2 separate regions of the Homo sapiens genome follow, and region 2 is linked to region 1. Evidence: fine-mapped expression QTL. A gene starts in region 1. The other region holds a variant in brackets. All regions are shown on one strand. Distances are between the middles of the regions. Region 1 holds the start of ETV4 (ETS variant transcription factor 4). Region 2 overlaps MPP3 (MAGUK p55 scaffold protein 3).

Region 1 (4,383 bases):
TTGGTGGCTCATGCCTGTAATCCCAGCACTTTAGGAAGCCAAGTGGATCACCTGAGGTCAGGAGTTTGAGACCAGCCTGACCAACATGGTGAAACTCCGTCTGTATTAAAAATACAAAAAATTAGCCAGGTATGGTGGCGGGCACCTGTAATCCCAGCTGCTCGGGAGGCTGAGGCAGGAGAATCGCTTGAACCCGGGAGGCGGAGGTTGCAGTGAGCCGAGATTGCACCTTTGCACTCCAGTGTGGGCAACAAGAGTGAAACTCTGTCTCAAAAACAAAAACAAAAAAACTCAGAACCAGAGGGGCACTGGCATCCCTAGAGAGGTCCCATCCTACTGAAGTGCCCAGTACCAACTTAAAGACCTACTGGACTCTTCTTCGTTGTCATGGAGACCACATCAAAGCTGCCTTCCAGGAAGAGCCCTCTGTCCTCCTCTCCACTTCTCTTGGCCAGAACTCACACTTGTCTCTAAACTGGTTCCATCCAGCCCAAAGCTGGGATTTGCTTGGGCTTGTTTCTCCTTCCTTGGGCAGGGTTCCTGCTAAGCTCAATTAATTTGGTCTTTATTGTACCTATTCACTACACAAGCATTTCATGCCACCCTCATAAGCATGCTAACAGGCTGAGGAGGACTTTCAGAGGCAAATGAGCTCTGGAGAGCTCTCCATAGATAAGGATGTCTATACCATGAGGCAGGATGAAAAACATCCACACCAGAGATATAGTCAAGAATGTTGTATATGGCTAAAGGAACTGATTCAGGCTATCATGGAAGGCTTCCTGGAGGAGAGGGACAATAGACATGAGCCTTATAGAATATTACAGCACCTATAGAAAGGGAAGTTTACTTCCATTTGCACAAGCAGATCTCATGGAATGAGCCCTTATGAACACTAAACAGCAATTGTATGTTTTAGCCTTAGTTCTGGCCAGACAGGCCCAAAGAGCTTACATGTGTCATTTCCTTCTCTGAAACTCCACTGCCTCATCTGTAAAGTGGCGGGTGTTAGGTTAGATGAATTTGGGAAGCCACTCCTGCTGGCCTGGCATTTGAACATTCTTTTGTGTTTATCACAAACAGGCAGGATAAAAAATCAGGCTGTCCTCAAAGGAGTGCATAGGCTGGAGACATAGAGAATTGTCTCAGCAAAAAGGCCTTTGAGGATTCATGTCCTTTGTGCCCCCATGGCCACAGCCCAAGCACCCCAGGTCCCCTCAGATGTCTGTCTTGGACATAGCTGCTTGCCTGGAACCCAGCACTGTATCTGACACGATAAATGTTTATTGAAAGAAGTGGTGAATGGATGAGATGACAGAGACTATGACCAGCTTCTTAGCTAAAACTGAAACCCATCCTGCCTCCAGATCATCAGAACCTTTGGGGCTTTTGCTCCTTTTGCTGGCTCTCAGATAAGAGGGAAGATGGCTGAGAGGGAGCTACACTTTCGGAAATCATCTACCCTGGGGCTTCTGGTTTCTGCTGCAATCAGTAGAAAGTGGGTCACAAAACAGCTCTGCAGAGAACAGACCCTTGAGGAAAAGCCTGGATTCTGTGCCAGTTTACATTTATTGATCACCTACTGTGTATCAGTTGTCACATAGCTTAACTCATTTAATCATGGCTTCAGAGGGGTGTACAGGAGAGTGTGAGGGATTTGAGGCTGTAAACCCCAGAGGTGCTGACTAGCTGAGTGACCTCAGGAGAGTTACCATCCCTCTCTGAGTTTCATTTTTAATATCTGTAAGATACAAACGATCCATTTCGCCGGGTTATGGGAACGAAATGAGCACGTGGAAGCGGAGCGCTTCATAAATGCTAGTTATTATTGTTCCTCTGGGCACACAAGCCCGGTCGCCTCCCTCCTGGGCGCACACAGACATGTTCATACTCCCACGTACACGCAGATGCAGAGACGTGTGCAGACGCCAGCCGGAGGAGCACGCGGCGCATCAGACCCAAGACCGTGGCGAGACGGTGAAGAAGCCGCGGGGTCCTCGGCTTCTCTCTTTTTCTCTCGGTTCTTTATGAATGAACTCCAGCCGCGAGTTTTATTTTTTTATGAATGGGAGCCGGAGCACTGAATGAAGCCGGGAGCCAACCCCTACATTCTGATTGGCCCCCGCGGCTGGGAAACTCCGCCCCCCGGCCAGGCCGGACGACTCTCCGGATTGGCGGGCGTGCCCAGCCCTGGGGTTCCATTCACAAAAGTCAATGAAACAAAGGGAAACGGGGGGCGGTGTGGCGGGGCGGGGGGTGGAGAGCTGAGGCCGAGCGAAGGAAATGCACCAATCAGCTGCTCCCCCGGGCTCACAACTGTCTGCTGCGCCCGAAAAACAAGTCGGTGCGCTGGGGACCCGGGGCCGGGGCCGCCTTACTCCGGCCTAGCCCCGCGGCCCTCGGTGCGGGCTCCAGGGCATGCTCGGGACCCCCCGCGGCTCCAGCCCAGACGCCCCGGCCTCAGGTGAGGCTGCGGGAGGGAAAGGGAGGGAGAGTGTCTGTGATTCCCCGCCTCGCCTCCAATGCACACCACACTCACTCTCACCACCCGCCTCCGCAGATTCCAGGGCGGGGGTGGGAGGTGCTGGGATTCAGGGTTGGAGGGGGCGCGGGAGTTGTGGGCATGCGATGGTGTGCGCTTCGCCTGCTCCTCCGCGCGCGCGCGCGTACACACACACACACACACACACACACACACACACACACACACACACGTTCTTATGTAACCGAGCCCGGGTAAAGCAGGGCTGCAGAAAGCAGAAACGGCGAGCCCGGCTCCTGGGAGCAGGTGGGACCTCCTTTGGCCTTTGGCGGGAGGGGAGTGGTGGTGGCGCTCGGCCTGGCAGGCGGAAACCTCGCCATCGCCCCAGTGAGTCGGAGAAGTTTCGCCGTCGGACCCAGAGCCTTGGGACTGCCCCCTCCCCGCCCCCATCGCAGCCCTCCCTGGACGGTGTGCGAACGCAGCCCCCTCCCCCACCAGGTCTCGGCCCCCGCTTGGGGCCCCGGCCGTGCGGCCGGAGGGAGCGGCCGGATGGAGCGGAGGATGAAAGCCGGATACTTGGACCAGCAAGTGCCCTACACCTTCAGCAGCGTGAGCGCCGCGCCGGCCTCCACGCCCGCCCCGCCCCGCACCCAGCCCCTACTCTCACCACAGCCCCCCTCCCCGCAGTCCCAGCGGAGTCCTGGGCTGCCCCGCCCCTGAGTCACCCGAGGACCCCAACCTCGTCCCCCAGACTAAGCGCCTCAGGGTGACTCGCGGGCATTCTCCCCGCTTCTCGCAGAAATCGCCCGGAAATGGGAGCTTGCGCGAAGCGCTGATCGGCCCGCTGGGGAAGCTCATGGACCCGGGCTCCCTGCCGCCCCTCGACTCTGAAGGTAAAGAGCAAGAGAGACAAACCGCGACCCTCCTCCGCCACACACACACACACACACACACACACACACACACACACACGGCCGATTCTGGAACCCCCGCCTGTTTCCCCAAAAAACTCGCCCTCCAAGGGATTTTGGTCATTCTTCTCGGTCCCTACTCCCAAGGCAGGGGAGTCACCGGGTCTTGCTAGGGCCCCTTCTCTCTTACCGTCCCCTCCACCTCACCTCCAATTCCACTATTTACCCCTCAGATCTCTTCCAGGATCTAAGTCACTTCCAGGAGACGTGGCTCGCTGAAGGTGAGTAGTTTTGTGACCTTTTCTATTTTGGGAGGCTGGACAGGGGGACACTCCGTAGCCCCTGGTATTCCACCCTAAGCCCTACACTTCTCCTCTCCCTTCCCTGCCTCAAGGAGTTCTCCAAGGCCCTCTCCCCAGGTCCCTTGCCACTCTACTCACCCCAGCACCCAGCGTGGACACTTATATTGATATTTATTTTCTCTACCCTGAGCCAGGCTTGTGTAACTAGGCTTGAGGATGAATCAGACCATTGTGTGGGGTATTTGCTTATTTGAATGGAACTTGGCCCCAGGCCCATTTTCCTGGTTGAAATTTTCATTTGTAAAGTTTGTTTTGCAGAAGCCGCCAGGCCAAGGTGCATGTTGGGGTGTTGTTGGTGGGGGGTGGGGGGAGAAATTAATTTGTCACTCATCCTCCAGAGTTGCCCAAGCATTGATTCTTATCCCCTGGGTTTCTCTTCTTCCCAACCCCCAGCACCAAACAATTTACTGTCCAAGCCAAAAGAACAACAAAAGTTTAAATAATTCTTTTCGGCAGTCCTTTGGCACAGAGAGCCCAGGGCTCCCTCCCCAAATAGCCTTGATTGTAATTCTAATAGCAAGTGTTCCTCCCTCTTCCATCCCGCTTGAATACCTCTGCCTCCAGGCAAATTCCCCCCTTCCTGTGTGCTGGGGAGTTAGCTGTGAGCTGGCTGGGGTGGGGTCCGTGG
Region 2 (4,383 bases), 280 kb before region 1:
TAAAGCTTTTTTGGAGCACAACCAGGCCCATTCACTTACAGATTGGCTGTGGCTGCCTTTATAGTGCGATGGCAGAGTTGAGTCGTTGTGACAGAGACTGTGTGGCTGGCCTCAAATATTTACATGTGGCCCCTTATAGAAAACGTGTGACAATGCCTGCTCTGAATGTTGAGGAAGCACAGGGCATTCCTCTCCCCAGCAGACAGACTGCTATCACTTTGGTCCTGGTTCAGCATTGATTTACCGAGCAAAGGGACAGCGTTGTTTATGAGATGCTCAGAAGTGGTGGAAGCCCAGAGAATTGAGATTGGCTCCAGAGGATCCCACAGCTGGCATTCTCTATTTCCAACTTTCCCCAAATGACCTCCGACGAGCCTCTTCTGCAAACAGACGAGGATCTCTCCTCTGCCTCTGTTTCCTCACTTGTAAAATGGAGTGGCCATCCATTGATTTAGCAAACACATTGTGAGCCCTCCTATCCAGGCTCTGTATTGGGTGCTGGCGGTTCAGAGCTGAATAAATGATGGATAGCGATGCTGGAAAGTTCTCAGTTCTGGGGGGCTAGAAGTCCTGAGGTTCTTAGCTGATGGCCTCTCTTTCTAGCAATAATTATCTTACGTACTTCAAATAGATGGCACAGATGATGTTAACAATAAGTGTGCAAATGTGTTTGCAGTTACAGCCACTAATAAGTGGTTAACATATGTTGAGTGCTTACTGTGTACTAAGTGCCTTGAGTGGAATCCTTGCAACAACACTGTGAGTTAAATGCTGTCCCACATCTCACAGGAAACAGGCTTGGAGAGGATAAGAGATTTCCTTGTTAAGTCCACATGCTTTTTGTAAACGGCAGAACTGTGTTCACACCCAAGGCTGTCCAGCCCTAGAGCTTAGCTCTTAAGCTTTCTGCCGTCCTGCTGCAGTCCGGCCTGTGTGGTGCAGGAAATCGAGGGCTCGTTAGTGCCTTTCTCATCCTAAGTGTCATCTCTGCTGTGCTTCATGGGCCAAGTCCTGGTCCCGAAGCCCTGGCTGGGGTGCATAATTGGTTTCCCTCAGCAGCAGCAGAAGGCCCGGTAACCCTGTGATTGGGTAGAGGCAGGGTGAGAATTAGCTGGCACGTGTCATCCTCATTATTAAATGTCTTTGCAAGTGGTAGGAACTGTGATATGAGAGAGATGTGATGGAGAACTTACTGGATTTGGCATCACAAAAAGCTTTCCCCTTTACCAGCTGGGTGACCTTGAGGATATTTAACTTCTCTGAGCCCCAGTCCCTCATCTAAAATGTTGCAGCATTATTGTGCCTTGTAAACTGTACAGTGCAGGGCTATATTAATGGGGGATGTTGGTTTTGTTTTGTCTTCAGCATTGGGAAGGTCCCCACTGATCTCTCTGGACTGTCAGAGGGAGGGACTGGGGAGGCTGTGTTGGGTCCAGAGAGTAGGGGTCTGAGGTTTGGAGCTGCTGCTTAAGAACCTGTCTCTTCTGTCTCGGGTTCAGGGTGCCACCATCCGGCGGGACGAGCACTCAGGGGCTGTTGTGGTGGCCAGGATCATGCGAGGAGGCGCAGCAGACAGGAGCGGTGAGTGGCGGCAGTGCAAAGCTGGCCCAGCCCCGATCATGGCCATTGTTCCAGAGCCCTCCACCTTTGCTAATAGGTCCCCTTACCTCCCTCCTATCAGGTCACCTGTTTGGGATTTGCTTTGCTTTCTGGGGTTGTGGCTGGAATTCTCATCTCCTTCCCAAGTCAGTAGAAATTTTAATAGAAAATATAGGCCAGCTGGGCATGGTGGTGCACACCTGTAATCCCAGCACTTTAAGAGGCCGAGGCAGGCGGATCACTTGAAGCCAGGAGTTCCAGACCAGCCTAGCCAACATGGCGAAACCCCATTTCTACTAAACACACAAACCTGGGAGGCGGAGGTTGCAGTGAGCCAAGATCATGCTGCTGCACTCCAGTCTGGGCAACAGAGTGAGACTCTGTCTCAAAAAAAAAAAAAAAAGAAAAAAAAAAAAAAGCCAGGCACAGTGGCTCACGCCTGTAATCCCAGCATTTTGGGAGGCCGAGGTGGGCGGATCACCTGAGGTCGGGAGTTCGAGACCAGCCTGACCCACACAGAGAAACCCCATCTCTACTAAAAATACAAAATTAGCCAGGCTTGGTGGCACATGCCTATAATCACAGCTACTTGGGAAGGCTGAGGCAAGAGAATCGCTTGAATCTGGGAGGTGGAGGTTGCAGTGAGCCGAGATCGCGCCATTGCGCTCCCGCCTGGGCAACAAGAGTGAAATTCCGTCTCAAAAAAAAGAAAAAAAGAAAAAGAAAATATAGGCCATGCACGGGTGGCCCACACCTGTAGTCCTAGCTGTTCGGGAGGCCCAGGCAGGAAGATTGTTTGAGCCCAGGAGTTTGAGGTTGCAGTGAGCC[G/A]TGATTACACCACTACACTCTAGAGTGGGCGACGCAGTGAGACCGTCTCAAAAAAAAAAGAAAAAAAAAAAAAATATATATATATATAAATAGTCATGGAGTACTTTGGGGTGATTGAGAAAAAGCTCATGCGTTGGTTTAGTCCAAGGACTGTGACAGTTAAGAATATAGCATGGGCTTGCGGGATTACTAACTGTGGGACAGGGTTGACACCCTTCCCCACCATCCCAGGTCTTGTCAAGCTACTATTACAAAGAGAGTGTTTGTGCCCCAGATTCGTTTGGGTAGAAAGGTTGAGAATCACCGGTGTGTGGAAGAGCTACTAAGCTGGGAGACAAACCTCCTGGTATAGGGCGATGTTACCCCCAAAGTCTGGGGGGTCATCGTTGCAGAGAATCCTAGACCAGCACTTTGCAAACATTAACGAGTCCACGAATTCCCTGAGCATCTTGTTAAAATGCAGACTGATTCAGCAGGTCTGAGCTAGGCCGAAGATTCTGCACTTTTAACCTGCCTCCAGGTGATGCTGATGCAGCCGGGCCAGTGCCCACTTTGAGTAGCATATAGGGCCCTAATATGCAGAGACATTAGTCATTCAGGCAGAGGCTCATAGTGTGTTTACACTCTTAATGATGTCTTCATTGGTGCCTTTGTCTTTCCTTGTTAAGACTTAAGAATGCCATTCTAAGAGTTAATGATAATTTTAAAGAAGCAGAGATTATAGCAAAAAGAACACAGGCTTTCTACATCATAATAACTGTGTTTGAATACTGGCTTCATTATTTCTCAGCAATGTGGCCTTAGGCAAGCTGCTTAATCTTCCTGGGTCTCAGGTGCCAACTTGTAAATTGGAGATTTTACTGGGTGATTTGAGCCCTGCATGCCGAGTGAGGTGCCCAGCACTTAGCAGGGCTTAGTTCGCCCCAGTCCCACCCATCAACTTTAAACCTCGAGTTGGCCCTGCAGTGGGCTTCTCAGGCCGGCCCCTGTGGTGCTTGGAGCTCTGAGCGAGGGGTGCTCAGGTCCTCCTCCTGTGCTGATGGTCAGTCCCTGTGTCTCCTAGGCCTGGTCCACGTTGGAGATGAGCTCCGAGAAGTGAACGGGATCGCAGTCCTGCACAAGCGGCCCGACGAGATCAGCCAGATTCTGGTCCGTGCTACAAGCCTGCTAGGGATGTGCTGGGTCTTCAGACACCCAGAGCAAGGCACTTCCTGGAGCCAGGACAGATTCTGGCTTAGCCTTGCTGTTGTCCTGAGGAGGTGGCAGGCAAAGTGGCCTTATGGTGTGCCCCTAACAGTGTGCCCGGGGTATGGGGTGGCAGCAGGAGGAGGGGAACTTCCCTTCCATCTGCCTCTCTTAGACCTTCTCCTCAGCACAGCCTTCCTTCCTTCCCCTGGTTCCCTTTCACAAGGCCCCTCCTGGGTCCTGGGTCCTGGGTGTGAATCCTGGCTCTGCCTCCTTCCAGCTGTGCAACCTTGGACAAGCCATCAGATCATCTGAGTTTCCATTTCCTTTCCTTTAACGTTGGGATAGAGTTTCTTTCTCAACCAATGTGTGGTTATCATTGGCATGCTAACATCTGGAAAAGGGTAAAGCCCTTCAGAAGTGTAAGGGGATTTTAAGGTATAAAATGCTTGGCTGAAAACCTCCATGGTCCATTCTGGGGAGTTGAAGTCAAAACTGAAATTGTGAAAAGCCCCAATCATAGCTTGGTCCCCTTTATCCTCAGGATTCCTCCCCTGACCTGACACTCTGCTAACTTCTGATGGTTTTGGGGGCAGAAACAGGATGAGATCTGAAAAGAGGAGGCCCACTGTTTAAAGCCCTCTCTGGGCTGGGCTCAGTAGTTCACACCTGTAATCCCAGCACTTTGGAAGGCCGAGGCAGGTGGGTCACCTGAGGTCAGGTCGAGACCAGCCTGGGCAACATGGTGAAACCCCGTCTCTACTAAAAATA

What was found. PIP is the estimated chance that this variant, and not a neighbour inherited with it, causes the effect. A credible set is the group of variants that fine-mapping cannot tell apart.
Region 2: its variant is the best candidate, but not a certain one, in a credible set for the expression of ETV4 in aorta (GTEx, PIP 0.87).

Annotation. Positions count from the first base shown.
Region 1 is chr17:43,544,266-43,548,648 of GRCh38, reverse strand. It overlaps ETV4 (ETS variant transcription factor 4), which reads left to right and starts at 2,309. Exons shown (of 13, transcript NM_001079675.5): 1 at 2,309-2,464; 2 at 2,981-3,091; 3 at 3,282-3,375; 4 at 3,627-3,674. The coding sequence starts at 3,032. It also overlaps a transcript of DHX8 not described here. RefSeq lists enhancers at 1,884-2,043, 2,165-2,942, 2,943-3,720 and silencers at 2,134-2,183, 2,204-2,343, 2,394-2,513, 2,964-3,013, 3,054-3,113.
Region 2 is chr17:43,824,949-43,829,331 of GRCh38, reverse strand. MPP3 (MAGUK p55 scaffold protein 3) reads left to right here. Exons shown (of 20, transcript NM_001932.6): 8 at 1,500-1,581; 9 at 3,491-3,576. Among named protein-coding and RNA genes, the nearest start is that of MPP3, 6.0 kb to the left of the region's middle. The variant G/A (reference allele first, on the strand shown) is at 2,428.